Regions from separate parts of the Homo sapiens genome. Here all the other regions are reported to be linked to region 1. The links are microRNA targets in miRTarBase. Many come from high-throughput screens and were not tested one by one. Region 1 holds a microRNA gene; each other region holds the end of a gene's coding sequence.

Region 1 (6,442 bases):
GTCCAATCACAACTTGGCTTTAAAGTACCCTCTGAAATGAGGGAATCAATATTGCTATTAAAAAATCCTTCCATACACAGTGACGACTCAGGATAGCAGCTCTGCCAGAAAGAAAAGATGATCTGTGCTATCCTTCTCCTGAGCAGTGGAGCAGGCCCAGTCCCTCAGGGTTACCTTTAGGGTAATCAAACTTGGCTTTGAAGCTGAGTCCTAGACTAAGTAAATAATTATCCTCCCAGTTCCCTCATCTTTAACATTAGGGTAATAATAACCCCTTAGGGTTGTTGTATTGATTAAATAGGCATAGAAATCTCCTAACACACTTTGTGTCTAGATTAATGGCATAAGAGAATACGGTAGGAGGTAAGCAGAGAATGTGTTTGTGCAGCTCACACACATGCACCTTCTGTGGGTAAAACAAGACTACATTAATAAGGACTCCACTGCTACTACGGAAACAAAATGTTCAGAATTTCTTAAATTCTGTACTAGACTCATTGACACAACAATCCAAGGAACCGTAGAAACCTGGTTGTCACCTAAAAACCTGAGAGCTGTGGTGCTGAGGTGACCAAGCACACGAGATACGTGCCTGTAGAATGCGTGCGTCTCTGTTATCGCTCGGTAGAGCCCGCTGGCCGCCCTGGTGCTGATCATTTTAAACAAGAGCACGATGCTGTTCCCAGATTCCTTGGTGACCGTCAAATATACATTCTTTCCTGACTGGGTGGCCATCTGCACCACAGGATAAGCTATCCTAAGAGACAGGAAGAGAAAAGAAAGCAGATCTAGAAGGAGTGATTCTTCACCATGTGTGTGCCTTTGTGGGATCCCCATTTGCTCATGACCTAGCAGAAAAATCAGACGCTTCCTCTGGGGTTATCACATCACCATAATGCTGCCTTATTGTAAAGATACAGTGAAAAGCAGTTGGGCATATGTGGAGGGAAGTATGGGAGCAAGTGCTGGGTGTGCGCACATGCATGTCTAGAGCTGAAAACAAGTTTTTTATGGCAGTGAATGGGTTATTTGGAAAACGTTAACTCTGCCACATTGTATACCTTGAATAACATTTAAAATGGTTATTTAGGCCTGAATAAAATTAATGTACATACCAAAATGAAATCTTTCATTCCTAAGAGCTGACTGTCGAGTAAATCCCTTCCTATTTTCTATTACATTGACAGCTACAGATGTATACACATGCTTAGGTCAAAAAAAGTTAAGTCTTGGCTTACCTATTAATTGGGCTAAAGTCATCTTTACAAATTGAGATTCCTTCAGGTCCAACCCCAATGAGCAGTTTCTGCCCTTCGCTATCCCGCACAGAATGCCATTCTATGCCATAGTTTTCCATTGCCGACACAATCTGCAAAACTTGGTATTCAGCTGAAGCCTGGCTGGTCCCCTCCAACTCCTTATGTTTTGCAACAATGCTGGAGGACACCAAGAGGACAGAGAATTAAGTATACAGATATTAGCTTTAGAGATAAACCTATGTAGTCTTCACGAGTGAAATATACTAACACTGATGAATCACAACAACTTAAAACTTATGTATTACTGATGTTTCATGTATTTAGCGAACTTACTATAAAAAACGTCTAAGACACTGGGATCTCAACTATTAAATACTTGGTAAAAACACTTTGGGGATGCTGGATGGGTGATGAATTGGAAGAATTATGGAAAGTCTCTAAAAATATACATAAGTCAAATTTACATATTGGAAAGTCTCATGCATTTGTCCACATATAGTTTATAAGTATAAAGTTGACCCCTGAGGCCCCTGTGGCCAGGGAAGGAGGTAGGCCAACAAACCACAGGAGTCAACCTGGCATGGAGGCCACCCTCAGTCGAGCCTTCAGATGAGACAGAGTTCTACCTGCAGCTTGACTACAGTCTCATGAGCCAGAGGACCCAGCCAAGACATGGCCAGATTCCTGACCTACAGAACTGTGAGACAATTTTTGTTGTTTTATGTCACTAAGTTTTGGGGTAACTTGTTATGCAGGAATAGATAACTAAAATGCCTATGTTAGATCTCCTGGTTTAATTCTTGCTGGGATGAAGAAAACACCAATATACATAATAGATTTTTTATTTTAGGAGATTTGTACTTAAAGGCACAGATTTAAAAAATTCCCATTTTATATAGCATTTCATATTGTGTTTACATATTTTTCAAATAAAAGGCTAACAAATTTTTTGAAAATATTTGGTTAAATTGGGCAATGGCCCAGTCTTAACTTCACAAATTATGTGTATGTACCACAGATTCATCTTCTTTTGGAAATGCTTATACATTTGATAGCTCTATGAATATATGCAGTAGCCCTGATGCTGCCATGTTCATGCTCTGGTGTCTCTGGTCTTGCTGCTCCCTCTGTCCTGATGGCCATTCTTTCTGTCCCCTTGCTTGGATACCCTTTGGTCTGTATCACATGCAAATCCTCTATTCCTCTGGTACAGTATTTGACATAACATGTATATTATGTATGACTTCTTAAGTGCCTCGAACATCAGAGAGCTCAAAAATGTACATAAAACTGCATATTATGTGTGATTAGTTTACCTTCCAACCTTAGTTTCATCCTGTTTAAGCCTATTCTAGTTGTAAACAATACTATATTCAACAGCCTCACCTGTTCAAGGTGGCAGAGGAGAGCTCCTTGGCACAGAGCTCCTCATAGTTATACTTGGCAGTGTTCTGGTTGTAGTCTCCAAACTTGGTCTGGGCCAGGAGGGCACTGAGTTCCACTGCCTGCTCTGGGGAACACAAGAGGTGGCCTGCCAAGAGGGCCTCCTTGATGTGCAAGAAAAAGATATGCCTGCAAAGCAAGGTGAGAGTGAGGTTATGCTTGGGGATAACCTGACATCAATCTCAGCCTACTTAGCAATTTCACAGTCACTTTTAAGGAAAGCAATTTTAAAAGTCACACTGAAAATGCTTAACATTAAAGAACTTCAAAAAAAAATCATCAGTATTAAGGCAAAATCAAAATAAGAACTGCGTTTCTCTGGAATAAAAGTTGTGACCCAAACAAGATAAACTTATTTAACACAAGTTCGGTAACATTAAGGTTACAAAACATAAAATAATTACACATAAGTTTCTGCATTATAGTGTTTTAAAAGAAATTATTTTAATCAGAAAAATTGTATCTTGACATGGATTCTGATAGAATCTTAAGGAACTCTATACATAAAGACAAAATTCTCACCTTTATTCAAATGATACCCCAATCTCTAGTCTCAGTGCCAGCTTCTGTCCTAAGAATCACATGAAAAATGTCCAATCTCCTATAGGCTTCACCACCTGGATGTTCTTCGGTACCTCAATTTTGGCTCATTCAAAACCAAACTCCATATATTCTTTCCCAAGCCCTTTTTCTCCGAATGGAGACCACGGACTGACTTTGGACTCTTTGTCCTATTTCACTTGACTTTCTTCTCTCTGAAAACTATTTAAATCCAGTTCTATCCTCCCATTTGTACCTCCTCAATACTACTTGCAGGAAGAATTTACACTATTCTCTGCGCTGCTCTCCTCCTCCAGACTCCATGCAGGCAGCCTACCTTCCATGCTGCTTGTTTCTAGTATAAACTTGTCATTTCTCTGCTCAAAATCCTTCAAAGGATCTGTACGGCTTGCCAAGGGAGCACGTTGTTAACGTGGAGCTGAGGAGTCTCCGCCATCTGGCCCCAGCTTTCCAGCCACGTCTCCTGTCATTCCCTGCAGCTGCTATGCCCCAGGATAGGGAACGATTCCTCTCCCTGGGAAATCTAGGAAGCATGTTCATGCTCTGGTGTCTCTGGTCTTGCTGCTCCCTCTGTCCTGAGGGCCATTCTTTCTGTCGCCTTGCTTGGATACCCTTTGGTCTGTATCACATGCAAATCCTCTATTCCTCTGGTACAGTATTTGACATAACATGTATATTATGTATGACTTCTTAAGTGCCTCGAACATCAGAGAGCTCCAAAAATGTACATAAAACTGCATATTATGTGTGATTAGTTTACCTTCCAACCTTAGTTTCATCCTGTTTAAGCCCATCCTAGTTGTATACAATACTATATTCTACATTTACTAAAAGGTTATGTCACACTTAAAAACTCCTGTAAAATTCAGATACTGGTCACACTGCCCAAAACTCTGAAGAGCACCTAAACTGCTGTAGACAGATTGGCCTCAGTTATAACAAGTGTCCCTGGCAAATGTGAAGTTTTAACCTTCCTTCGATGACTTGTCATAACCTCTCAAACAAGGCTAATTGCCACATTATTCGTCCCATTAACAAATGAATTGTAACTTTGGCCAGGTGCGATGTCCTCAGCACTGTTTCTGTTTAATAATATATCTGTGTCTGACATTCCAGGTAGAGGAACATGAGCAAGGTAAGAATCGACTAAGGAGGAGGCAGTGAGGCTACAAATCTAAGGAGGTGCTATACTGAGAGTCTACAATGTCTGGCTGACAAGAGCCATTAATCTTATTTTCACTAAGAAGTATTTAAATTCAATGTTTTGTGCATTCTATAATGATAAAGAAATATTTAAAATGATGAAACTCTGCCAAATACTGCAGTTTTTTCTTTTTTTCAAAGCCCGTGTAAAGAAATCATAGTAAGAATGTGTAATAGCCTCAAAGAAGATAAAGATGGTTTTTATTAACCCAAACATCTGCTAATCTTTAAAGTATTTCTGACATACTGCTAAACTGAGAAAGGAGCCCCCACTGGGGCAAAGGAATCACCATGAAAATAATTTGCTGTAAAATAGCTATCTGAGGACTGAGATCCAGCATTCTCAGCAAGCCGTGGTTTACTACACTGTTGCAGGCCTCAAAAGGCTTCTTAGATGACCATTTGATAAACTTCATCTTGGTGAATGTACCCATCTCTGTATTCGACTGGGGTGGAGGTGTGCTGTTAGGAAACTAAAATCTGCATCTATGCTTTCGTTAAAGAAGAAATTACGCTCTGAAAGACTTGAAGAATATTGCCACAAACGAAGTCTTCTTAGTTTAATTACTGCTTATGTAAAAGTGGCCTTTTTTTTTTTTTTTGAGATGGAGTCTTGCTCTGTCGCCCAGGCTGGAGTGCTATGGCACGATCTGGGCTCACTGCAAGCTCCGCCTCCTGGGTTCAAGCGATTCTCCTGCCTCGGCCTCCCGATAGCTACATTAGACCATGCCTGTCTAATTTTTGTATTTTTATTAGAGACGGGGTTTCACCGTGTTAGCCAGGATGGTCTCAATCTCCTGACCTCATGATCTGCCTGCCTCGGCCTCCCAAAGTGCTGGGATTACAGGCAAAAGTGGCTTTTAACTTATTTTTCAGGTGTAAAGTTAGAGACTAGTTCCTGCTTTATTAGATAGTAAGAAGAGTTTTGAATCAATTCCGTGTCTTTTTGCAACCTATCCATGCCTACACTTCCGGAGAGACAGTGGCCAAAATCAAAGGCAAAGAAGCAGTAACAGAATGTAAACAGGTGGCAGGCAGCCTGAGAGCACCACTGATCCTTCTCAGCATATGGGCCAGAATTTAAGAAAAGATCTAGCAAGGGCGATGATTGACCTTTTCGACATACTCCACATTCTAGCCTGGAGTGCAGAGGATGCCTGGTAAGCATGAAAAATCCTTCTCCTTACTGTCAACATCAGCTTTCTGATAGTCCCTTCCTGCATTTTGCAGTTTCATGGCTATAAAGCAACCTTTTCATTTCAAGCCAATAAATATTTGTCTTGCACCGCCTCTGTGCCCAGCCCTAAGCTGGGGTTTTAGGGTAAACATGTCTGAGAGTTCCTTTTTAGATGGACTTACAGCCTTTTACAATAAAGGGACATATCCCATCAAAATAACTCCAGCCACAATCTAGCTTTTGGGTGACAAGTTTATGCTCTCCAGGAGAACAGTACAACAGAGTACTAGTAGCAAAGATCAGCACTCTAATAGGCTCTTTCCAAGACAGAGGATAGCAGAGCTCAGAGACATGTTTCCAACAAGAACTTCAGTGATGGCTCAATATTTATGGGTGGTTTTGAATCAAGTATTTTCTCTTAGTATTTTCCCCTCAAACCATCTGGATTGTAACTATCTGGCTCCTGGGTTTTGCCCCCTCCTTTTTTTTTTTGTAAAGTAGGCAAAATGTTACCAATAATATCAAAACAAGCAGATGTGGTCAAATAAGTTATGCCTGCAGTGAATGCTTTTGCACTAAAGATCAAAAGTAGATGACATATTCAATTCAATAGAGGCTACATCCTAGAATCACAAACAGAAAGAAAGCCTTTGGAAAAAAACTGTTTTCTCTGTCTTAAGGAAATGTCCATGAATACATCCTATGAGCATAAATAAGCTCAAACTGCACCTTTTAAACATTCTTCGGGTTATACCTTCTAATTCATGACTCTTCTTTAAGTTTTACCCAGTTACTAAGA
Region 2 (6,442 bases), not on the chromosome of region 1:
TATAACTCAATATACATATGCACATTTATCTATGACTCAGATGCTGGAAAATCATAACCTATTAAATTACTTTTGGGATTGATTTTGAAAATTTATCTTATATGAAAAATTAAATTTGAGCACTACAATGCTTGTGAAGAGTATTGCTTTTGGAAGATATTATTCTTGAAACTTGAAATTCATTTTACTTTGTTTGTATCTCACTACACATAAATAAATTTGAGATAAAAATACATTAGTCAATCTGGCAGACATATGAGACCGGTTATGGAGTATTCACAATGCCTAAAGCAGTGGTGTATCTGTCAAAGGAGGAAAAAGTGGGAGAAAAGGAGGTATAGGTTTGTTTATCTCAAGTTGCAAAGTAAATGCAAAAGTGACTCATCGACCACTCTGTTTTAGAGGTAGATTAATATTTTGCCTTTATACCTTGAGATACTTTTATTTCCTATTGATCTTCCACTATAAGGGTGACTCTAACAGCACCTTTAAATTCCTTCTACCTATTCTTTATCTAAGGTAGTTTATGGTCAATAATAAAGGAATAATAAATGCCTTAGGGAAACTATTTTAAAGGAACCTATTTGTGAATTATTTTTTAAGCAGTTTTTTGGTATTATTAGTGTTTCCGTATTCTCTAATTTATCTGTTAAAGTGTGTATATTAGATTTTCTTAAGAAGGGGCACACATCTATCAACATTCTAAATCATTTTAGGTCATATAAGTTTAAGAAATAAGTAGTTTATTGTAAAAAAAATTATTTTATCCTTGCTAGATGATAAGCTTCTTGAAGGCAAATATAATAGCTTAAGGATCCTGGCTTTAACCTTCTATAGCCTCTTACACATGAAAGGTATCCCCAGGCTCTGTGGAGAGAGAGAGTGTCCCCGAGAGAAGGCTTCCTGAGGTAGTTTCATTTTCTAGGTTTTCATCATGAGTGATTGTTTCTGTGTTCTGTGCCCAATAATAAACAGGCTTTGTGTTATACCTTAATTTAAATCGTTGCCTAACAGCATTTTAAAGTGTCCAGAAACAAAAAGATGAAAATGTTTACATTTGCAGCTCAAGCTCTTTTAACTTTATAAATAGAAATAACATTTCTAAGAAGTTGCATACAAACGACATTGTACTTACACCAGTCTAAAGGTTAATATTGCATATTGTTTTCAATTAGGAATACAATAGATATGGCTGGTGGGTAGGAGAAATGAAGGGAGCCATTGGCTTGGTGCCTAAAGCCTACATAATGGAGATGTATGATATTTGAGAGTCCTGGGTAAGTACATTTTAATCCAATATTCTGTAATAGCTCATATGTTCTCTTGGTCTCTTCGTTATGAGTCTTTGCCTTTTTAAAAGTCTTTAGAGTTTTCTGATAACACAAAGATTGTGCCCCGAAATCTTTTTTGTTTTGTTTGATCTGGTTTAATTTTTAAAATAAGAATTTTTAAAATAAAAACTTTATGGAATTTACTTTGGAAATGAATAGATTATTTAGAGAAAGTTCTTTTGATAGTAACCAGCTGTTTTCCCAAACTTCCTCCTTTTCAGTAAAATACCACTTTTTATGGCCTTTCTGAAGAGTTGAATTGACAAAATGTTGAGTAAAAATACATTTTTCCTTGGCTAAAAGTGTAATTTTTTTAAGCAGGAAAAATCAAGTTTCAGCTGAATCAAAAATTAAAATGCAGCTTTCCCTTTCTCCTGCAGAAAAGGAAAATTCTTCTGCTTGTCTGCAAATGCTTTGGATTTAGAAGCGTCATGAAAGCACGAGTGACAGCTCCTAACCTCTCCTTGTTTTATTAAACATTACTTATCTTTGACTGTTATTTTATGCAGTCGCTCATTAAAATATTCCTCTGATGTGAAATTAAATGAAGGATATTAATGTAAATTAGATGCAACCAGTTAAGTTATACCTGTTGCTATTTTGCAAAGAAATAATTATAGTTTTTATTTACCCATTTGATTTGTGTGAAGAATTCATCACTATTTTATACGTAACATATAGTCTACTATAGCATAGTATGCTACTATTGCTACTTCTGGTGTGATTTGTAATGTTTCTTAATCATTGGACATCAATTATTTTTAGAGAGTAATGTATAATTTCATAGCATTTTAAATTTAGTGTATCATGCGAGTTTTTTTTGGTAGATGCTGAAGAATGTGGTTGCTAAACAAAGAATGCTAAAGAATGTTCAAACTTTATAGATAACTTTATTGTTATTATTTATTTTCACACATTTAATTCCTATTAAGTACAGCCGCAAGAAAGAAAAAATGATGAAGTTGCAAATGGCAGTGTGCTGTCACCTGCAACAGAAGTGCGTACCAGAAGTATGACTCATGCAAAGCATTTTACCGTACAAATATCCTGGTGCGATGATGGGCCTGGCAACATTTTCTACTGTACTTTTGTTTAAATTTAATGAAACAAAAAATTCCTAAGAAATACCACCCTACCACTAACAAAATGGTATAAAGAATCTCCCAGCCAGGCCAACATGGTGAAACCCTGTCTCTACTAAAAATTAGCCAAGTGTGGTAATGTTCACCTGCAGTCCCAGCTACTTGGGAGGCCAAGGCACGAGAATTGCTTGAACAAGGTAGGCAGAGGTTGCAGTGAGCCAAGATCGCGCCACTGCACTCCAGCCTGGGCGACAGAGTGAGACTCCATCTCAGAAAAAAAAAAAAAAAAAAACAGAATCTCAGTGTATTCTCAAAGTAAAAAGGCATAACCAAGCACTCTCTTATCTTGCCTTATTGCTATACTATTTACATCCCACTGCAGAACAGCAGATTTGAGGCTTTTCTATATACTTCTCAGAGCACTGAAAAGAAAGGAAGGGTTTGCAGAGGAGAGTGTAGAAATCCCAGTGGTAGCATGTACCAACAGGTGAGTAGAAAGGTAGTGTTAGCCTGACATTTGAGTTATACTCTGTGCTGCCTGAGCAAGATTTGTAGAATCATATAATTACCTTTTCATGTATATTTGAAATCAGAGGTGTTTAAAATACCTATGAGATACCAATGTAGCCTTAACATATGTCAAAATGCATTGCTGGTTAGATAATTATTTGGACTACACATAAACTCCTAATATTGAATCATTACCTATCAGGTATTATCTTTATGGAACTTTTCAATATCTTTGCTTTATAAAGATTCTAAACATGTATCTGAGCTGGTAATATTTTAAAATCTCCATTATTTGTGTAAAACTGTTTATAAGCAGTGTTTGAGAGGGTCTGCTTTACCATTACCCCCTCAATATCATGATCATCCAATCTCAAATGTGAAAAAAAAAAAGAAATTTGATTTTAGGGATTGTGAGTAAACAAGTTTATATAGAGAGACATTGTGAAGTTAAAGTTTTCAGAAGTTACATTTGTGCAGTTCTTACCTTTTCCTCATATAGTGCCATTGAAATAGACTGAAATTATCTTGGCAAAAGTTAGACAACCAAAGACGACTTTAGTGGACTGGTTTTCAAAACTTGAGCAGCTGAAAAGCAAAAGCCGTTGTTTCCCATGACAATGTAGCCTTTGTGGATTTGGGTTTGTGCTTTGGGTTGAAAAGAAGTTTTTAGTCCTAGGCCAGTAGATGGCAGCAGCTTTTCATTGCAGACAAAACCTCTTGAAACCCTTCCCCCATGGCACAAACTCGCCCATGATGGAAAGCATCTAGATTTCTGCCTCCTTTTACAGTTAATCCAGGAGAGGGAGTCCTTTGCCAACTGATGACCAACAGTTCCAAGCCAGATAGTCTCGTGAACAGTGACAATACAGAAATAAGGTGTTATTTCTGTTCAGATCTCCACCGGCCTTTGTTCTTTTAAAACTTGAATATAGGTGGGAGACATAAGAAAGGAAAGAAAAGACTTAAAACTGGAGTGACAGGACAAATAATCATTACTTTCAATTCATGACTGCTTTATATTCATTTGATGAAATCATTTGTATACAAACCAGGGAGAGTTTTCTTTACACCCTTGACAATATATCACATACTCTTCAAGATCATAATAATATCATTAATATAAATTTAAACAACATGGCTTGTTAGAAAATATGCTAATTGCTATGGTCTCATTATGTTTGCTTAGCTTTTATTTGTTTTTCTGTGAACAGTTAGAGAGCTAATTTTTTTCAAAGGTGATTGTAAGTCATATTTTATATAGCATTTTGCTTGATTATTTGCTCTGTACTGAATTTGTACTCTATTGCCATTAGATCTTACAATAATGTTCCACTCTGCAAATTTTTAAGGTTCAAATAAAGTTTAATTGTTTGCAAACTGTTATGATGCTAATAATTCAACAGCCTGCTGTGTTACTAATGAAATTACTTTGTTATGATTAATTTGGAAAATAGTGTGTTGATTGTAGTAATTAAGCACAACAAGGTGAAGTAAATGATTCTAATGCCATCTGGCCGCCAAACTGAATGAAGAAATGAAATAGGGCTGTCATCTGAATTTATTCAAAGAAGTAAGGATAATACAAATGACTTTCATTGCTTTAGGATTTACACTTAACACAGCTCACTCCGTTCTATTTTTGCCACTTTGCTGCATATGACACTTTCTTTCATAGAAAAAGAATGTCATTTAGTCCAGCAATTGTTTTGAATACTTTATTTTATTGGAAGCTGATTATTTTTACTGTGTGCTAATTTAATTACAGATAATTACATAAAGTATTATAGGACCATGGGAAAAAGAAATCACTTTTCAACCATGTGTAGGTGAAATCCATATATATGGGGTTTCGTTTTTGTTTCATGTTTTGTTTTGTTTCACTTTTTGCTATCATTACACAACCACTTTGAATATAGCCTTGCACAAAGAGTAGGGCATCCATTCAACTGTTTCTTAAATGTGTACAAAGGCTCACTCTTAGTTCTTATGATTTCTACTTTTTATATAATTTCATGTAATTTCTGCACTCTACTACTTGCTACTTATTCATAGACTGGTACTATCCAGGGTCATAATTTAAAATAGAACTGAGTTAGATATTATGAATTCAGATTTGCAGTTCAGCCATTAGAAGAAAATTAACCCTAATATACATGTTGTTTAAGAGCTTGAACTTCATCAGTGAGACTGAGTGAAGCATTGTGAGAATTTTTAAAGTTCTAAATTTCAGATAAATCAGTCATTTGTATTTCATTTGTTGGAGTTATAGACACACACCATATAGAGATCACTTTTGCTTCTCTTGAGTTCAGTAGGTTCATGACTATTGAAAGCAATCCACATGGTAAAGAAAGAGGTGGTGAAGAGTGGAGATCAAAACATGATCAAGCCATGGAAAACACAGCTTCACTCAAAGGTTGAAAGAATACTTTGTGTGTGTGTGTGTGTGTGTACACTGTATATATATATAAAATAAAAACATTTGATGAATATGATCTTATTTATAGTAATATACTTAGTATTCAAAAATACAGAGAAACAATAAGTACTACATTGTTAAAATATTATTATACAAGTTTAATATATACTCAAATGCACAACAGTTTATACTCTGGATTGGGAACAAGAGATTTCTAGACATCTCAGCTTTAGCCAGTTTATTATACGCCTACTGCTTTATAGTTGAGTTCTTCCAGAATATCTGTTAGAACCTCTGATAGCATACTATTTTATGATGAGATAAATACTTTAAAAATCATATGATCACAGTAGCATGGAATGACATTTCATTAATGCTATGTTTGAGGGGCTTTTTCTTGTTTCTGCTAGTAGAATCTGTTCTACCATTACTTATACACAAACATATTATTTATTGCCAGCATGGTACACATTATATGGTGTGGATCCAGTAAATATTTGTTAATTAACTGATTTGGCACCCCACAATATCTCAAGACATGAGATTTAAGAAGAAAAGAGCTTGACTAGTAAACCTGGTAGAGAAAATGCCTTTATACAGTTAGTATATCCCATAATACTATCAACAAGTAGATTGGATTTTATTGTTATAACAGAATTGAGTGAGATTGTGAATAATAAGAAAGTTGAGTTGTGGTACATTGTCCTTAGATGTTTCCTTCCTTTCTTCCCTTGTGTTCAGTGTTGTGACCTCAAATAAGAGGCACAGGTGCCTCCTCGGGCAGCTTGGGGCAAGTGATCTACTTTCACTTTCCAGTGAAACATCTCAAATCACTGCTGCCCTGCATTCCACTTGCGTAATATCAGAGAAGCCTTTCCTGCATCTGATCTTGAAAGCATTCTAGCTGTCGCCTTGGGCAGATCAAAAATTTGTGCAAGTAAGTGGGAAGTTTCACAGTTGCTGCCAAATCTAATCATAATTTAGCTTTTGTCCTTTTTGTTAACTTTTACTCCCTGTTTATTTAAAGTTGTATGATTATGTTAACTTGAGTGCTTTGAGTCCCCAAAATGAAAGGAACTGTAAATGCAGAAAGTCGCCTT
Region 3 (6,442 bases), not on the chromosome of region 1:
TGTAAGGACATGGGATGGCCAACAGGGAGGGCTTGCCTTCTTTTCCTTTTCTTTTTTTTTTTTTTTTTTTTCGAGATGGAGTCTGGCTCTGTCACCCAGGCTGGATTGCAGTGGCGCTCCATCCCAGCTTACTGCAACCTCCGCCTCCCGGGGTCAAGCGATTCTCCTGCCTCAGCCTCCCGAGTAGCTGGGACTACAGGCGCCTACCACACCTGGCTAATTTTTGTATTTTTAGTAGAGATGGGGTTTCACCATCTTGGCCAGGCCAGCCTCCAACTCCTGACCTCAGTTGATCCACCTGCCTTGGCCTCCCAAAGTGTAGGGATTACAGGCATGAGCCACCACACCTGGCCTCTTCATTTGTTTCTTAACACATGTAGATATGGGGTCTCTCTATTTTGTCCAGTCTGGTCTCCAACTCCTAGCCTCAAGTGATCCTCCCGCCTAGGCCTCCCAAAGCACTTGAACTACAGGCATAAGCCACTGCGCCTGGCCAAGGACTTGTCTTCTGAGTCTGTCCATGCACTGTGGTCTGGTCCATTCAAGTCTGCTTTCCTTGCTCAAGCCCTATGACTTATGCCGGCCCCGGAGGTTAACTGACTTTTTTTTTTTTTTTTTTTTTTTCTGAGACAGCGTCTTGCTCTGTCTCCCAGGCTGGAGTGCAGTGGTATGGTCCCAGCTCACTGCAACCTCCGCCTCCTGGGTTCAAGTGATTCTTGTGCCTCAGAACGCCTGAGTAGCTGGAACTACAGCATGCGCCACCACACCCGGTTAATTTTTTGTATTTTTAGTAGAGACGGGGTTTTGCCATGTTGCCCAGGCTGGTCTCAAACTCCTGAGCTCAGGTGATCCTCCCGCCTCGACCTCCCAAAGTGCTGGGATTACAGGTGTGAGCCACCGCAGCCAGCCAGTTGATTGACTTTGAATTACGAGCTCTTATGCCCCGGGCATGTCCTGTCTCATTGCTCTCTTTCTGGCACAGACCAAGTACGATGCAAACCAGCAAGCCAGGAAGCACCTCCTCCCCGTCACCACAGCAGACCTGAGCAGCAAGGAGCGTCACCGGAGCCCACTGGAGAAGCCCCACAACGGCCTCCTCTTCCCCCAGCACGGGGACTATCAGTACGGCCGCAACAACATCTTAACAGACCACTTCCAATACAGCCGGCAGAGCTACCCAAACTCGTACAGTTTGAACCGCTATGATGTGTAGAGTCCAAAGGACAGGACCAGACTGTTGGTGACTCCTTCCCCGGCCCCCACAGCAGTATCAGAAACTTCTGACAATCAGTGAATGTACAACCCAGCCGAGGGGACGGTGCATAACTCTCCATCAGAAGCCCTGGGGTTCCTGGCCCCCCGTGAGCCGCAGGAGGATGCGTTGCCTGCAGTGCAGACGGCCGTGAGCTCTGGGCAAACCTAAACAGAGACCAGTGTCTCATGCTCTTTCTTCCTGGAGTCTGTCATCTGAGGGCCGTGTCCCTGCGGAGATCTTGGCCACGTTGTACCTTTCCATGTGGAATTATTCCCCAAGCAGTGTAGCTCAGAGCACTTGTGTCTGCATTCCAGATAACATTCAGGACCTGTGTGAAAAGCTGGGGTCACTGTGGCTGTAGACCATGAACTGGCAGTGGGGGTGTCCAGGGCGGTGCTTGAGAACGTCAGACTGGCTAGTTTAATTCCCTGGCGCAGATACGCATAGGACCAACAGGGTCACCAAGCAGACAGGGAGCCCGCGAGAATCATTCAAAACATCCCCAGCCACAGAGATGGATCCAGTTTCCTGGTCATCCCCTTAGCAGTTCACAAGTTCCTGGCAAATGTTCCAAAGCAAAAAGCGATTGCAATTAGCATCCAGTTCCTGCAGCCTGGTGCTCTGCCCTGCACGTCAGGGTTGGCATCCACCCAGATCCAGATGGAAGGGAAACTTCTCTCTTCTCCTTTGCCTCCTCTTCCCTCACCAGAGCAGGGCGCTTCTCTTGGGGTGGTGAGAAGGATCTTCGAGAAATCGTGTTCAGTATTTCAAGCTCTATTTCTGTGGCACATGTCTTTTGAGAGGCATCTTCACCTCTTCTGTGATGACTTGGTATGTTGTTTGGTAGAGAGATCTTGATTTTCGGAGGATCTTGCATTTTTCTAGGGAATATTTTGTAGTTGTGTGTGTGTGTTTTTGCCTTGGTCCCCATTATGGGATGCATTAGGACTGGCCTATGCATCGAAAATCTTTTTGTTTGTAAACGTTTAAAAACAAAGTTCCCCGGCCAGGCACAGTGGCTCACACCTGTAATCCCAGCACTTTGGGAGGCCAAGATGGGCGGATCACGAGGTCAGGAGTTCGAGACCAGCCTGGCCAACATAGTGAAACCCCATCTCTACTAAAAATACAGAAATTAGCCGGGCATGGTGTCGCGTGCCTGTAGTCCCAGCTCCTCAGGCTGCTGAGGCAGGCGAATTGCTTGAACCTGGGAGGCAGAAGTTGTGGTGAGCCGAGATTGTGCACTCCAGCCTGGGTAACAGAGCGAGACTCCATCTCAAAAAAAAAAACAAAACAAAACCAAGTTCCCACTGGTGATGCCTGTCTGACACGTTTTGGTATTTAGTAGGAAATGAAGTGTTTCGAAGCTTCGAGAGAAGCTTCAAAATTGTCACAATTGCTGAAAACAGAATGAATCGTGAACATTATCTCAATATTTTGTATAATAGACAAGACCACAGTGTTTTGGTTCCCTGACCTGTTTTTGTGTTTATGTTAGGATCTGAATCATGTTCTGGGTAAGGGGACGAGGAGCGAACACTGCACTAAGATTTGGTTTGCCAAATCAGATTCTTTGGTCAAGAGTCAGTTTGGGGCCAGGCGTGGTGGCTCATGCCTGTAATCTCAGCACTTTGGGAGGCTGAGGTGGGTGGATCACTGGAGTTTGAGACCACCCTGGCCAACATGGTGAAACCCCATCTCTACTAAAACAAAAATTAGCCAGGCATGGTGGCACCTGCCTGTAATCCCAGCTACTTGGGAGGCTGAGGCAGGAGAATCACTTGAGCCCAGGAGGTGGAGGTTTCAGCGAGCTGAGATCACACCACTGCACTCCAGCCTTGGTGACAGAGTGAGACTCTGTCTCAAAAAAAAAAAAAAAAAAAAGGAATCAGTTTGGGTCTTGGCAGAAATCAACATAAGGAATATGACAAGACCCCAGTAGGTAACCCTGAGTGCTCAGGTCCGAGCTGTGGTCTCTTTTACGGCTTCATGAAAGGACCGTGCCCTCACGGAGGGGACCACGGCTTGGCTTGTGGGGTCTTAGGTGATGGCTGCCTTCTTTCTTCATCACCACACCCAGCTTCTTGCTGGCACTTAGGGGAAGAGAGCAGCAAATGAGAGATTTACCTTTTATCTCCCAGCGAGCGAGATGTTTCCCTGTTCAGAGAGGAAGTAACATCACTTATGCTTGACTGGTGTTTCTTTTGTTGTTGTTTGTTTTTCTTTCAATTGGAATTCTGTATTTAAGATGTTATGTCAGCTGACACATGGGACACTCCTGAAGAGGTGACTGGCCCCCCACCCTGTTTGGCGGTGAGTTTCCGCACCACCGGCCTCAGAAGTGTCCCTCTTGCTTCGTCTCTTGTTCGCTTGCTTTGTAAATACTTTGGTCCCAAGCTGAGACAATTGCTGTGTAAAACGTGAAGAGTCAATCCCAAAGGGTGTTATTTGTCAGAAGAACTTGCCGTGTGCCTTCACCGAAGGCAGTCAAGTCTGCAGTTGGATTTTTCTCACTGGTGAATGACAAGAAACAGGGATAATTTTGCACTGCGGAGATATTACGGGAGTTGTCTATATGATTATATATAGTACCTGATTCTTTGAACATATTATTGAACTCCAAAATGAATTCGACCTCCATTCAGGCTTCCTGAAATCTCTGAAGTTGCTGAAATTTGTATATTATTTTCCTTTTCCAATGCAAGATCTGCTGGTGACGGGAAATGACTGTCTGGTTTTATTATGGTTTATAAATTAATAAATGGGCTATTTAATTCTGTATATAAATTTACAGCAAGTACGTACACTGGAATGAATGAGGCAATCACGTTACACCAAATCAGCAGATCAAAAGACAAACACATATTTCTGAGACTTGAAGGTCCACATCCCCCCGCCCCCTGCCAAGATGGAGTCTTGCTTTGTTGCTCAGGCTGGAGTGCAGTGGCGCAGTCTCAGCTCACTACAACCTCCATCCCCCGGGTTCAGGTGATTCTCGTGCCTCAGCCTCCCGAGTAGCTGGGATTACAGGCATGCACCACCACGGCTGGCTAATTTTTTGTGTTTTTAGTAGAGACAGGGTTTCACCATGTTGGCCAGGCTGGTCTCGAACTCCTGGCCTCAAATGATCCGCCCACCTTGGCCTCCCAAAGTGCTAGGATGACAGGCATGAGCCACCGTGCCCAGCCTGATTGACAATGGCCTCTTGAAGGCTGGGTTTTCCCAGCCGGACAGTGCCCGCCCCACATGCTCCACTCCCACGCTTTCATCTGCAGGCCTGCCTTCCTCTCAGCCACCTCACTGCTGAGCTCTGTGGTAGAGAATTTCCTTTACCCATCAGGGTATGGTCTGGCTGGTAATACTGACTCCAACCCAGCTCCTTCATTTTATAGAAGGAGGCATTTCTGAATCATGTTTGTTCACCATGGCGAGACTCACTGCAGAATTTTTAACCACCTTATTTTAAGTCATTCATTCTAGGAACAGTCAAGCCCCTACCACAAAGGGGCCAGATCCGTTCAAGTGAGGAAGCACTTGCAGTTTCTGAATTTTGCTGTATATTTGTCCTATGTCACCCAACAGGCCCTTTGCTATAGCTGGGACATTACCAGACCCCAATACCTTAGGGTCTCACAGCCTGAAGGACACAGAGCATTGAATTATTAAAAGACCTGAAAATATTATAATGTTTTTCAATTGTCACCTGTTTTCAAGACTTAAATGCTATAGACTTTTCTGCAGGAATGACGTGTATATTCCTCACTGGCATTTACCAAAAATAAATGATGGTTTCCAGGGAATCAAAATTGGTCCCGATTTGTCAGCGAGGGTCTCTTTTTGAGTGGCCCTGTCTTCAGTGTGCCCAGCAACAAAATGTGGAAGGAGGAGAAAGAGCAAGCCAACTTGGCTGTCACGTCTGGATTTACTGCAACCTTTGTTTTTTCTTCTGAGCCAAAAATAAGGACGTGCAATTTGTGAATTGATTAGATGATACAATGAAAATAGGATCACAGCTAAATTAATGACGTGACTTTATTGAACGGAATAACATGGGAAGTCCAGGAACATTGTGGCAGCTGTGCTTATGAAACTTTTTTTTTTTTTTTTGGTATGTTTCATGTTTTTTGAGACAGGATCTCATTCTGTCGCCCAGGCTGGAGTACAGTGGCGCAATCCCGGCTCTCAGCAGCCACAACCTCCCAGACTCAAGGGATCCTTCCGCCTCAGCCTCCCAAGTAGCTGGGATACAGGCATGTGCCACCAAACCTGGCTAATTTTTGTATTTTTTGTAAAGATGGAGTTTCACCTTGTTGCCCAGGCTAGTCTCAAACTCTGGGGCTCAAGCTATCTGGCCTGTTATGTTTTTGGTTTAAGAGACAGGGTCTCACCTTATTACCCAAGCTGGACTGCGGTGGCACGACCACAGCTTCCTGCAGCACCAAACCCTACATTCCAGTCCCCTGCCTCAGCCTCCCAAGTAGCTGGTCCAGGTGTACACTACCACACCCAGCTAATTTTTAAAATATTTTTAGAGATGGGGCTCTGTGTTACCCAGGCTGGTCCGGAACTCCTGGGCTCAAGTGATCCACCTGCCTTGGCTCCCATAGTGTTGGGATTACAGGTGTGAGCCACCGTGCCCAGCCTGAAGCCATTTTTGAGTATTGACAGCCAAGACTGTGTACCTGCTACATGCCCAGCTCAGTGGTGAGCTTTTCACACACGATACCTTTGTGAGTTTTATTAGCCTTGTTTTTCAGGTGAAAATGAGGCCCAACGGGGTCAAGTCACTCATCTGGGATTACATAACTGCTTAAATCTGGCTCCAGAACCCATTTTTCCCCATTACTTAAGCCATCCCCAGCAAAGGATTTCTTTCAGACAGAAAGGGTTTGAGTTTCTGCTGAAACTGTTGCCCATGTCCTTTTCATTCATAATCTTTTTGTTTAGTGATTTACTAAGCACTGGCTGTGTCAAGCAGCAGGAAACAGATATGTAAGCCTCCTACCTTCAAAGCACTCAGCCTAAATGACAGGTATGTAACTAAGTAGCACATGGGAGCTACTTAGAAATGCTAAGACCCGGGGGATGGGGGACTAGGGGGAGGTGGCAGGGCTTACGCCTGTAATCCTAATATTTTGGGAAGCCAAGGTGGGCAGATCACCTGAGGTCAGGAGTGCAAAACCAGCC
Region 4 (6,442 bases), not on the chromosome of region 1:
ACATGAAATCACCTGGTGCAGGCTCAGGAGAGAAAAGAGCCTGGAGACAGTCAGAGGAAGAAAACAAAATGAGACCAAGGAGTGGCCGGAGAAATAGAAATAGTGTGATGTCAGAGAAGTTTAAGAGAAGATTCCTTTTTAAGGAGAGCAAAGTGGTCAATTTTAAATGTTAGTTAAAAGGAATGCACATCTAACCTACAGGATTGACAGCAAAGTCTTTGTTGACCCAGGAAATTTTATTTTGAGCCAGGAAGTTAGATTTTTTTTTAACCTTTGCCAGTCCTAGTTCTTATAAAATTACCAGCCATTACAAAAGTATTCTAGTTTATTTTTAAGAGACAAGGTCTTACTCTGTTGCCCATGCTGGAGTATAGCGGGCACAATCATAGCTCACTGCAGCCTTGAACTCTTGGCTCAAGCAGTCCTCCGCCTCAGCCTACTGAATAGCTAGGACTACACCCAGCTAATTTTTATTATTTTTATATTTATGTATTTACTTTTTTGAGATGGAGTCTCACTCTGTCGCCCAAGCTGGAGTGCAGTGGCGTGACCTTGGCTCACTGCAAACTCTGCCTCTCGGGTTCAACAGATTCTCCTGCCTCAGCCTCCCGAGTAGCTGGGACGACAGGCACGTGCCACCATGCCCGGCTAATTTTTGTATTTTTAGTAGAGACAGGGTTTCACCATGTTGGCCAGGCTGGTCTCAAACTCCTGACCTCAGGTGATCCACCCTCCTTAGCCTCCCAAAGTGTTGGGGTTACAGGCGTGAGCCACTGCGTCAGGCTTCAGCTATTTTTTTAAAAAATATTTTTTGTAGACATGGGGTCTTGCTATGCTGCCCAACCTGGTCTCAGAACTCCTGGCCTGAAGAGATCCTCCTGCCTTGGCCCCCCAAAGTGCTGAGATTACAGGCATGAGCCACCATGCCCAGCTTTTTATACTTTACAAATGAATGCACGCTGTTGAATAATTCTGCTCCATAATTAGATACAGTCTGACCACTAGTAAATAATGATTGATGCCCTTTGAGGATTTTTGCTCTTTGTACCCGTGTACCTTAGACCTTGGGAAGAATTAAAACTCTCTGGTTGAGGAGAGTTTGTATCATGCCCTTTTTAAAAAATTATTTTAATCCAATAACATGATTGGGTCCATATTGGTTGAACATATTTCAGGAGATTGACAAGTCATCTATGCTTATCATTTGTACCCCTGGCTCTATTATTTTCTATTCTTTACACAGGTTCATCTTAAACAGTATAACCATTACCAGTCCAATATTCTACATCAGCTATCAGAACTTTCTGAAATAGAAATATTCTATAGCTGTACTGTCCAATATGGTAGCCACCAGGTACATGAGTTACTGAGCACTTACAGTGTGGCTAGTGTGACTGAGGGAGTACATTTTAAATTTCTTTAAATTTTAATTAACTTACACTTAAGTGGCCACAATGATCTTCAGTAACCCTATTTTTTTAATGTATTTTTTGAGATGGAGTCTTACTCTGTCACCCAGGCTGGAGTGCAATGGTGCGATCTCGGCTCACTGCAACCTCTGCCTCCCAGATTCAAGCGATTCTCCTGCTTCAGCCTCCCGAGTAGCTGGGATTACAGGTGCCCGCCACTACGCCCAGCTAATTTTTGTATTTTTAGTAGAGACGGGGTTTCACCATGTTAGTAAGGCTGGTCTCGAACTCCTGACCGCAGGTGATCTGCCCATCTCGGCCTCCCAAAGTGCTGGGATTACAGGTGTGAGCCACTGTGCCCAGCCTCCAGTAACCCTATTTTTGCATTTGATGTTGAAAATTGCTCACATATGATGGTAATCCTATTGAAAGACTTGAAATTAGATAAAATGTTAGCTGTGAAACACTTCATAAAAAAAACAAAACAAAACAAAACAGGCCGGGCAGTGGCTCATGCCTGTGATCCCAGTACTTTGGGAGGCCAAGGCGGGCGGATCACGAGGTCAAGAGATGGAGACCTTCCTGGCCAACATGGTGGTCAAGAGATCGAGACCTTCCTGGCCAATATGGTGAAACCCCGTCTCTACTAAAAATACAAAAATAAGCTGGGCGTGGTGGTGTGCACCTGTGGTCCCAGCTACTCAGGAGGCTGAGGCAGGAGAATTGCTTGAACCCAGGAGGCAGAGGTTGCAGTGAGCTGAGATCGCGCCACTGCACTCCAGCCTGGCGACACAGCGAGACTCCGCCTTAAAAACAAAACATAACAAAACAAAACAGTGACTACCACTGTTCTCCACATGGTTTTGCCTATCTTGCTAAGTTTCCATGCCAAACCATTTTTTTTTAAAGGAAAGGTATTTATATCCCTTCTTAATAACTTAGTGTGAAACTCTAGGACATATTCTCTTAAAGACCTCTTCCTTACTAATAGACAAACACAAATCATTCTTAAAATTAAATATTGTTTTCTAGCTCTAGCATAAAAAAATAGTAGAGGCTGTAAGACAAAAGCTGACAAAACACAAAGCTTTCACAAACCATGGTTTATACAATACTTTATCTTACACTATTAACACTTTATTGAAAATATTTCTATTGAAAAGAACTCTGGAAACACATAAAAATATTTGGTAAGAAAACAAAAGCACATCTTTACTACCAGTGTGAATTACTACCTGACAATTATCAACTTCTCAAATAAGAACATTAACCTACTTGTGATTGAAGAAAGAATTATCCTGTCTATGGATGACATAAGCAACTTGGCCAGGACAGAACCAATGGATGAAACCACATATAAATCCAATTTGGCCAGTTAACTTATGTAAGTGAAATGAAACAGTTAACTTTATTCATTAATATGATCAAAACATTATCTTTACTTCCAAGATCTGCAAAAACTTAATTATCCAAATAATTTAAGTTTGGAATTTATATATTTTTCAATACATAAAGGGTAAGGAAACTCTTATACAGTAATGAGACGGAAAGAAAACAACAGCTTCCCGTGAAAAAGACCTAATGTAGTCAAATATAAAAATAAGTACAGTAGCCTCTTTTTTTTTTTTTTTTTTTTTGAGACGGAGTCTCACTCTGTCGCCTAGGTTGGAGTGCAATGGCGCAATCTCCACTCACTGCAACCTCTGCCTCCTGGGTTCAAGTGATTCTCCTGCCTCAGCCTCCTGAGTAGCTGAGATGACAGGCGTGTGCCACCATGCCTGGCTAATTTTTATTTTGTGTATTTAATAGAGATGGGGTTTCACCATGTTGGTCATGGCTGATCTTAAACTCCTGACCTCAGATGATCTGCCTGCCTCGGCCTCCCAAAGTGCTGGGCTTACAAGTGTGAGCCACCACACCTGGCTGACACCCAGCTGAAATGTAACCTCTTGATAACAGCCAAATCACTGTATTAGAAACATTTAAATTCCAGCTCTGAGGGTCAAGGGTGAGGCATTTAAAAGGTTCCTTTAAGTTAAACCAAATGGATGAATTTTAAAAGAACAAAAGCAATTTATGAACCTATGGGCATATCATTAAAAAAGAAAAAAATTATTAATAAATTCCAAAAGTTAAAAGGAGTTGGGAAAAAAACCTAACTAGAAAGAAAAAATTTTGGTTTCAATTAAGGGGGATTTTTTGGTCCATTTTATGTAAGAGCTTACTCTTTTTCCAAATGGGCATTTATTATTTGCACAGATACATAAAAATGATTCCCATTTTAAAAACCATAATAAAAATATACATTAACCACAGAAGTACTTACTCTAACTGGAAAGAAAATGAACATGGCTATTTTCAAAACAGTAATAAACACAAAAGGTCAACATACATAAATCATGACAAGTGTACATCTCATTTTTGACAAAAATAAGTTCCATTTTTACATTAATGCTTCATCATCAGGCTCCATATTACATCCTCTGACCTTATTTACATTTACTATGAAATTTCTATTAGCATGTGTCACTCAAAGGCACTCAATTCAGAGGGTAAAAAGTCCTGAGCTTAAGTAGGAAACAAAGTTCCCAACTAAAATTTGAACATAAATAATTCTAAAGATCAGAGAATATTAAAATGTTTAAAACTATAATATCTGGTACATAAATAATTCAAAACCTAATAATAAAGGTGTACAGACTGTCAAAGAAAAGACCATGTAAGGCAAGAAATATCCTTGGAATCAAACTGATTTTTCCCTCATTCAAGATCATTTGAAGGTGCAAAGCTAACTTTCACTGTTCTTAAACTCCTAGGAAAGTCAAATTAAAAAAAATAGCAATGACAATGCTTAAGTTTTAAAAAAAGTTTATCAGCTTAGTCTCCAAAACCAGGAAGAAAATATTTAATGATTAAAAACAAGTATGACCTGGAAAGATATTAGACTAAAAGGAGGAATCACAATGAGCAGGTGAAAATGTTAAAGGAAAGCTTTCAATACACCAACTGAAAAAGGCATTTCTAATTGGCCAACCAAATTATTCTTTTAGATTATTTTAGCCAAATAAAAAGAAATTTACAGATGGATAACTGAGGTCCACTAACATAAGGTAGAAACAAAGTTTAAGCTAAAAATTAAATCTATATTTTGTTGCAGATAAATGTGAGATTTACCTACAGCAATTTTCTATTGATGCTAAATTAAAAGCATGAATTGACATCGTTCTAACAGAAATGGTTTGACAGATATTTTCTTGGCTTTAAAATGTTCTTACGCATATGCATAGAAATGCAATGAGGATAAGAATAATCTTCTGTATTGTCTGTACAGTTCATAAGGCCTTTGTCATTGTTAGTCACCTTCGATGTGAATATCAGTAGGGCCATTAAATTAAAGCTGGCCTAAAAAGTTTTCAAAGTGCTACTGTTTCCAACTGATGAAATCTTCAGTTTTCTGGATTTTCTGGGTGACGATTATTTTCAATTCTTTTTTTCTGGTGATATATACAAGAAGTTACAGCAGATATATAAAGGGAAGATCAGAAGCCTGCTGTCCAAGTTCATCACCACTTGTTCCTATAAGACAGATTTGTAGATTCAATGACAATTAGATAAAATAAAAACAAAAAACCAAACTGTTGAACTGAGTGAACCAAAGGAGATAGTGTCCTGAGTCTGAGATCCACAACTCCACTCTCCAAACTCCCACCCATTAGCTGTGTGACCTTGTCAAATGCAGCTTCCTCACTGTAAGATGGGGACAGTAAGAGTACCTGACTTAAAGGAGGATTACAAGAGATAATACACAGGGGGTTTTGCAAAGCCAGCTATCTATTAAGTACTCAATAATGGTAGTTATTTTCATTATTGCAAAAATTTCTATCAAATACTTACATATTTTGTCAACAGATACAATGTCTAGAAATACATAAACTTCTCACTGGGCTTCAATTTTTAAAAAAATTTATTTCCTTTTACAAAATTAATTAATTATTTTTAAAAATGAGATAGGGTCTTTCTATATTGCCCAAGCTGGCCTTGAACTCCTGGGCTCAAGAGATCTTCCTGCCTCATCCTCCCGCCTCAGCCTCCTGAGTAGCTGGGACTACAGGCAGGTGCCACTGTGCCTGGCTACTTGGCTTCAATTACTGATGGCCGTTGGGTACAGCAAATCACCCAGATGAAGGTCGGGAGTCATTATCATCATCAAAAAGCAGGGTTCCTACTATTGACATTTCCCACTGTCCCTATGACAAACATGTAATTTGTCTCCTGAAACATAAAATACATTATCATGGAAAAGCAATTTCAGGTTCAGTTACATCAACACACACAAGAATGCTCAGAACTCCCAGAGACAGGAGCTGACACTACACAAATATAACATCCCTGATGCTACAGATCTCTGTTTGGAACCTCATATATCCTTTACTAGAAGCATTTGGTAAATAGAATCAATCCTCAGAGTAAAAGAAGAAACACTAAAATGAGAATTCCTACGTTTTAAATGCCTGGGATATGCTCTCTGCAATAGTATGCATTAGTTACACTTTATTTATTTTGGATAAGATACTATTAAACACTGTTTAAATCCAAAGTTTTAATTTTTTACTGAGACATGTATTCCTGCATGAAGAGGAACTAAAACTAGAATATCTGTGTGACTGAAGCAGACTCACTAGACACAGCTTCTGTGTTGAGGGAACAAGAAGATAAATTTGAATAAAGAAGGTAGAGAGTACAAATGTCTCACACACACACACACACACACACACACAAACACACAATCTCTCTCTCTGTACGAGGGAAAGTGGTATTATAAAAAGACATCAGTGAACAAAATCAGGGGAGGCCATCACCTAGACTGTGCTAACAAGTGTCACCAGAGAGGAATTATGCCAAAGCATGGTTGGTCTTCAGATGCTTGAGACATCCTGAACTAGTCAAAATTTATATCAATAATCTGGGTGAAGGCACATTTACCAAATTTGTTGAGGACAAATGTTTTGATGATATGTATATCTGATGATAAA
Region 5 (6,442 bases), not on the chromosome of region 1:
AAATTGAGTTGAAGGAGCTTGCTGGTTGATTGGATGTGTTGGAAAAAAGGGAAAGAAAGGAATAGTGAAAGACCACCTGAGTTTTGGCATGAGCAACTGGGTGGAATAGTGTCATTATTCATTGAGATAAGGAAAACTGAAGAATAAGTCTGGGGGAGGGAGCTGAAAGTGAAGTTTGTTCATGCTAAGGTTGAGATGCCTCTTCAGCATCCAAGGGGAGATGACAGATAAGTACAAAGAGACATGAGTTTGGAGTTGAGTAGTGAAATCCAGGTTTGAGATACAGATTTGGGAATCATTGCTGGAGACTCAAGAGAGCCAATTGTGTAGTTCCTGTTTAAGGGCTGGTAGGCTTGAGACCCAGAAAGAGCTGAAGGCAAGGGGGAAAGGTCAAATTCACAGGCAGTCAAGCAGGAAGAATTCTCTTCCTCAGGGGAGGGTCAGCCCTCTTATTCTCTTTAGGCCTTCAGCTGATTGGATAAGGCCCACTCACATTAGGCAGATAAATCTGCTTTACTCGGTATTCCCATTTAAGTGTTAATTTCGTCCCAAAACACTTCTACAGAAACACTCAGAATACTGTTTAATCAAATATCTAGGTGCTCTGTAGCCCAGTAAAGTTGACACAAAAATTAAGCATCACACTGTGATTCAGGGAAGGTGTTTGGAAAGAGGGAGTGGCCAACCATTAAGACTGGCACTGCACGATGTGTTAAGAAGTTTATAGACCATTTATTTGGCAAAAGGGTTTTTTGAATATCTTTGTAGAAATTATTAGGAAGACAGAAGGTATGAAAGGGCAGAGTATTTCCTTAAGATACATTTCCTGTGAAATTACTCTGCCAATGAAAATGAAATTTTAAATATCCTATTATACATGGTACATTTGCTTCAACCTTTCTGAAGGATAGTTTAATACAGAAAAAAAACTCATTAAAAAAGGCAACTAGGTTTAACATACATAAACTATATATGTATATATTTACACATCTGTTTAATTTGAGGATGTAAAATACTATTACTTTTTAAAGCTTTTTACTCTGAATTATATATTTAAAAAAAAACAGTGCAGAGAGATTCCACGTAGCCTTCACCCAAATTCTCCCAAGTGGAAGTCACTATAGCACAAAAACAAAACTAGAAAATTGACATTGAGCTGTGTGTGCCAATATTACATCATTCTGTGTCATTTTGTCATGTGTAAATTCATGGAACCATCACAACTCAGATATAGAATTATTATGTCACCACAAAGATCTCACTCAAAAAGTGTTATGTCCTAAGGCTTTCGTTTGGAAAACAGAAAAAAAAATCATCCACATTTCCTCCCAAACAATTATTTTTATTGCATATATTCCCTCACAGTTGTAATTACTGTATATCATAATATTTTCTTAACAGCAAATGCACATTTTCTTCACCTTTGACTTTGTACACCTCTAGGTTTTGAAAGCAAATCGACCCATGCTGCAGGATTATCACAGGGTTGTTGCCACCCCTGAAATATTCCTTGTGGTAGTACTGATTGCTGGTTAAGATGGCTACATTTAAATACTCATCTTCTGAAGCTTTCTGTGGAGAAATTAAAAAACATATATCTTGTATAAAGTCATAGATAACAATCAAAAGAATAAAAAGTATTTGTTCTTCAGTAGTCCATCTGTGTAACTATCATTAGAATTGTATGAGGAGCCTAGCCCAATTACTTTTCATGATTTAAGTGAATTTAGCATTTTCTTGTTGCTTGTACTTTGTATGTAGATTCTCTAGATGCCAATAATGATGGGTTAACTTTTAAAGAAGTGAATATATATACACATATGTGTATATACCTATATATAAATTGAGGAGACGATTTAACTTTTGAAAACGATGTCTTGACTGAATACTGCAAAGCCAAAGACAAAAAAGCAAACGCTGTATTCTAATTGGTTACTTTGTTTCTCATAAAGGGACAGGTTAGCAATTATGTAACTATGTTATGTAACTAGTTTACACATATAGTAGAGTTTAACAAATAAGCAAATAAATCTTAGCTAATAGGAGACAGGTTTCTCAGCAACAGAAAAGTTACAAATAAGCAAGGGGTAAGGTGAGGCTAGAATGAATCCTGTGGTGCTGAGAGTTGGAGATATCAGTATAAACTCGTTTATTTCAATAAACTGTAGGTATATATGTATAGGTATCTGTGTATACATACAAACATTTCCTAGCTGTGTCCACTGAGGGGGCCTACACAGTGATAACCTAGTAGCAGTAGCAATGAGCACATCTTGTGCCCAGATCTTGGTTTCTAAAACCATTTTTCAGTACAGGGAACAATGGTTTCTTGGGAAAAAAAAATCACTGATTCTAGGGCTGGGCAGGAAAAATAAAAGATGAGCTTGCAGCATATTGGAGCGCTGGAGAGTAAGGAAGTGCTGAAAAAAAAAAAATAAGGCCAAACAAACAAAAAACACATAGGGAGAGGCATGTCAAAAGGAAACAGGAACAAATTTTCCAAGAGCTCTCAAAGGCCAAAGCTGCAACACTTTGAGCAACAGTATGATAGTACTGGATTACAACCCAAAGAACAATGTATATATCCATGAGTCCACACTGATAAAAAATATTGGATAACAATTTTCCTTAAGTAAGCTTCTAATTAATAAATGTATCAGGAAATAGGAAGGTGAAACATCTGGTGAACCTTTGAGCTGGCTAATAAATGTTTTTGCCAACCAACCTATTTTGTGTTCCTTCTGATGCATAACAATGGAAAGAGGATTTTTTTCCCCTATGAGTTTTGAAAATCAGAAATACCTTTGTGTCCATCACCAGTAATGTTGAAACTATTTTCTATAACTTGTCATGCCCTACAAACCTTACTTTAATCAAATATTGTGCAGCTTAACACACCTCATAATCAGTCATGCTATTTGATGAAACTTTATCCTTTTAATAAGACATTTTCTAACATTCCAATGACTGCCCCTTTATTTCATATTTCCTCTTCACTTTGTATTCGTACTTGACATTGTGAAATGAGGACCAGGCCAGGTGCGGTGGCTCACACCTGTAATCCCAGCACTTTGGGAGGCCAAGGCGGGCGGATCACCTGAGGTTGGGAGTTCGAGACCAGCCTGACCAGCATGGAGAAACCCTGTCTGTACTAAAAATACAAAAAATTAGGTGGGCATGGTGGTGCGTGCCTGTAATCCCTGCTACTCAGGAGGCTGAGGCAGGAGGATCACTTGAACCCAGCAGGCAGAGGTTGCGATGAGCTGAGATTGTGCCACTGCACTCCAGCCTGGGCAACATGAGTGAAACTCCGTCAAAAAAAAAGGAAAGAAAGAAAGAAGGAATGAGAGAAAGAGAGAAAGAGAGAGAGAAAGAAAGAAAGTAAGGAAAGAAAGAAAGAGAGAGAGAGAGAAAGAAAGGAAAGGAAAGGAAAGAAAGAAAGAAAGAAAGAAAGAAAGAAAGAAAGAAAGAAAGAAAGAAAGAAAGAAAGAAAACCAAGTACCACAAATACCCAATACTGAAAGTTGCATTTCTTTTAATGGCTTCTCTAGTTTCAATGCATATTGCATAACAAACACAGGAAGTCCTATATCTTTCAGCTCAAGGAGGCTTTCTCTTGTGTCCTATATTGCTGAAAGTTTTTATTACCTTCTTTTGTGTGTGTGTGTGTGTGTGTTTTGTGCTTTTTGGGGTTTTTTTTTGAAACAGAGTTTCGCTCTTGTTGCCTAGGCTGGAGTGCAATGGCATGATCTTGGCTCACCACAATCTCCGCCTAGTGGGTTCAAGTGATTCTCTTGCCTCAGCCTCCCGAGTAGCTGGGATTACAGACATGCACCACCAGGCCTGGCTAATTTTGTATTTTTTTTTTTTTTTTTTTTTTAGTAGAGATGGGGTTTCTCCTCGTTGGTCAGGCTGGTCTCCAACTCCTGACCTCAGGTCATCTGCCTGCCTTGGCTTCCCATAGTGCTGGGATTACAGGCATAAGCCACTGCACCCAGCCTACCTTCTTTTGATATCAACATTACTATGAACAACAAACCCATCTATAAGGGTTCTATTGTTCCAGAGTATGAGTTTTCTTTTCTTTATCTTTTTGAGACAGAAGCTCACCCCATCACCCAGGCTGGAGTGCAGTGGCACAATCTTGGCTCACAGCAGCCTCGACCTCCCAGCCTCAAGTGATGCTCCCACCTCAGCCTCCTGGGTAGCTCGGACTATAGGCACATGCCACCACACCTGGCTAATTTTTTGTAGAGACAGGGTTTCACCAGGTTGCCCAGGCTGATTTCCAACTTCTGGGCTCAAGCGATCCACCTGCCTCAGCCTCGCAAAGTGCTGGAATTACAGGCATGAGCCACCACACCCAGTCTGTGCTTTTTTTTTTTTTTTTTTTTTTTTTTGCCACAGAATCTCACTCTGTTGCCAGGCTGGAATACAGTGGTGCGATCTCAGCTCACCGCAACCTCCGCTTCCTGGGTTCAAGCGATCCTCCTGCCTCAGCCTCCTGAGTGGCTGGGACTACAGGTGCCTGCCACCATGCCCAGCTAATTTTTGTACTTTTGGTAGAGATGGGGTTTCACCATGTTGGCCAGGATGGTCTTGATCTCTTGACCTCGTGATCTGCCCACCTTGGCCTCCCAAAGTGCTGGGATTACAGGCGTGAGCCACCGTGCCCAGCCATCCATGTTTTCTTAATGTAACTTGAAATGATTATTCTGTTAATAAATTATCAATCTGCTATGTTCATAAATTTGTTTATGTGCAACCTTAAAAAGGAGGTGAGAATCTCACAGTCCATTCCTCTTACATGTGAATCACTTTCAATTGTGAATGGCTTTTCCTGTTTTATTTGCAAATACATACACATATACATATCATTTCCCCTTTTTTAAAATAAAAAGTAACATACGAGGCTGGGTGCAGTGGCTCACACCTATAATCCTAGGACTTTGGGAGGTTGAGGTGGGCGGGTCATGAGGTCAGGAGACTGAGACCATCCTGGCTAACACGGTGAAACCCCGTCTCTACTAAAAACACAAAAAATTAGTCAGGCGTGGTGGCAGGCGCCTGTAGTCCCAGCTACTCAGGAGGGAGGCAGGAGAATGGCATGAACCCAAGGGGGCAGAGGTTGCAGTGAGCCGAGATTGAGCCACTGCACTCCAGCCTGGGTGAAAGGGCCAGACTCTGCCTCAAAAAAAAAAAAAAAAGAGTAACATACTAGGTATGCTGTTCTGCATCTTGCTATTTTTCAGTAATAGTATAATCTTTAGCAAGCTATCTACCCTTTGAGTTGATTAATCTGTAAAATATGAACACCGAGAGGATTAACTAGAAAGATGCATGTAAGGAACTCACCAGAGGACTGGGCAGAGTGAAGCATTTGATATAATAGATGCCACCTCAACACTCCCTGCATCCTACTTCCACCTGCGGCCCATTTCATAAGATGGCTAAAATGCATATCAGACTAATATTCCATTAGACCACTAAAATGCCCATGGGAAATCAGGAAAGCTCAGATCATACCAGCCTAAATTATTTGTGGCTTTCTCCCTAAAGTAAGTTTTCAGTCAATTCTGATGACTACCCAATATTTATTCTTTGAGACAAATTTAAGGACATAGTTTTGTGTATGTGTACATTGGATTCTTCTACCTTCAACCAAAATCAAGGGAACAAAATTCCCTTATCTATTCAAACACACTCTTTGGTCTATCCAGAAGCCTACAAAGTGCTGTTGGGAGAAACTATCCTGCCCCCAACTTAGTTCCAGTGTTTGGGGGCTTGCAAATTAACAGATCAATAGAAAAAACATTTATTATATATGCATGCAAGAACACTACAAAGAGTAGCTCTCTGAACAGCAAGGGGTAAGGGTTTACAGATCAGCTTTATGGTGTGTGTCTTAAGGCTTCAGAATGAAACTACAAAAAGTTCTGATAAGGCTTATTTACAATACCTTGGGAGGTCCTAGTGCTAAGTGCCCTTATAAGAGGAACACTCAGAGGAGGGTTTTGGCAGCTGAATTCTCGGTAAGACCTGCTTTACTCATCAAAGTTTAGCTAAGGCTTTTTGTCTGCAGCTGCTGTTTGTTCAGATATTCTCAAAGTAGACTTGTGTCATATTGATGGGTTGTTAGTCCCTTCATTGCCCTATTTGAAACTTGACATGAAGTTTCACTGACAAGGAGCTGTGCTGATTGCTGTGGAGATAAGGCTAGGTTCAGAGGTTGGGAGTTAAGGGATCTGCGAGATTTGCGAAAGACACGAACATAGATTAAAACAAAGATGAATAAGCAGAAAAGAACAATTAAAAGCACATAGCCCCATGATCTGAACCAGTCTCCCACTTTTGCAAATATGCCTTGCCAATCAAGTAACGGTACATTCTTCAGGTTCTCGGATGCTTCGTGGAGACGCTGTATATTAGACTTTATTTCTTC

The links. Region 1 holds the annotated microRNA hsa-miR-4639-3p (UCACUCUCACCUUGCUUUGC, at 2,834-2,853, opposite strand). A microRNA usually pairs through its seed, bases 2 to 8, with sites in the 3' UTR of a target mRNA and lowers its output. Matches are read on the target gene's strand: a 7mer-m8 pairs with bases 2 to 8, a 7mer-A1 pairs with bases 2 to 7 and ends in A, and an 8mer does both.
Region 2: miRTarBase lists SKAP2 as a target of hsa-miR-4639-3p. Seed matches in the 3' UTR shown: 7mer-A1 at 2,667-2,673 and 7mer-m8 at 2,863-2,869.
Region 3: the mRNA of SLC35E1 is a reported target of hsa-miR-4639-3p. Seed matches in the 3' UTR shown: 7mer-A1 at 3,102-3,108.
Region 4: the mRNA of GMCL1 is a reported target of hsa-miR-4639-3p. Seed matches in the 3' UTR shown: 7mer-A1 at 3,058-3,064.
Region 5: the mRNA of ERVMER34-1 is a reported target of hsa-miR-4639-3p. The part of its 3' UTR that is shown has no 7-base or 8-base seed match.

Annotation. Positions count from the first base shown.
Region 1 is chr6:16,138,014-16,144,455 of GRCh38, reverse strand. It overlaps MIR4639 (microRNA 4639), which reads right to left and starts at 2,900; the gene lies at 2,832-2,900. It overlaps MYLIP (myosin regulatory light chain interacting protein), which reads right to left. Exons shown (of 7, transcript NM_013262.4): 3 at 2,646-2,831; 4 at 1,239-1,436; 5 at 593-757.
Region 2 is chr7:26,664,926-26,671,367 of GRCh38, reverse strand. SKAP2 (src kinase associated phosphoprotein 2) reads left to right here. Exons shown (of 13, transcript NM_003930.5): 12 at 1,176-1,277; 13 at 1,712-4,300. The coding sequence ends at 1,268. Among named protein-coding and RNA genes, the nearest start is that of LINC02860, 30 kb to the right of the region's middle.
Region 3 is chr19:16,548,450-16,554,891 of GRCh38, reverse strand. SLC35E1 (solute carrier family 35 member E1) reads left to right here. Exons shown (of 6, transcript NM_024881.5): 6 at 983-5,055. The coding sequence ends at 1,213. Among named protein-coding and RNA genes, the nearest start is that of CHERP, 9.2 kb to the right of the region's middle.
Region 4 is chr2:69,877,452-69,883,893 of GRCh38, reverse strand. GMCL1 (germ cell-less 1, spermatogenesis associated) reads right to left here. Exons shown (of 14, transcript NM_178439.5): 14 at 2,510-4,985. The coding sequence ends at 4,890. Among named protein-coding and RNA genes, the nearest start is that of SNRNP27, 13 kb to the left of the region's middle.
Region 5 is chr4:52,737,726-52,744,167 of GRCh38, forward strand. It overlaps ERVMER34-1 (endogenous retrovirus group MER34 member 1, envelope), which reads right to left. Exons shown (of 3, transcript NM_001242690.2): 3 at 4,828-6,442. The coding sequence ends at 6,104. Among named protein-coding and RNA genes, the nearest start is that of ERVMER34-1, 10 kb to the right of the region's middle.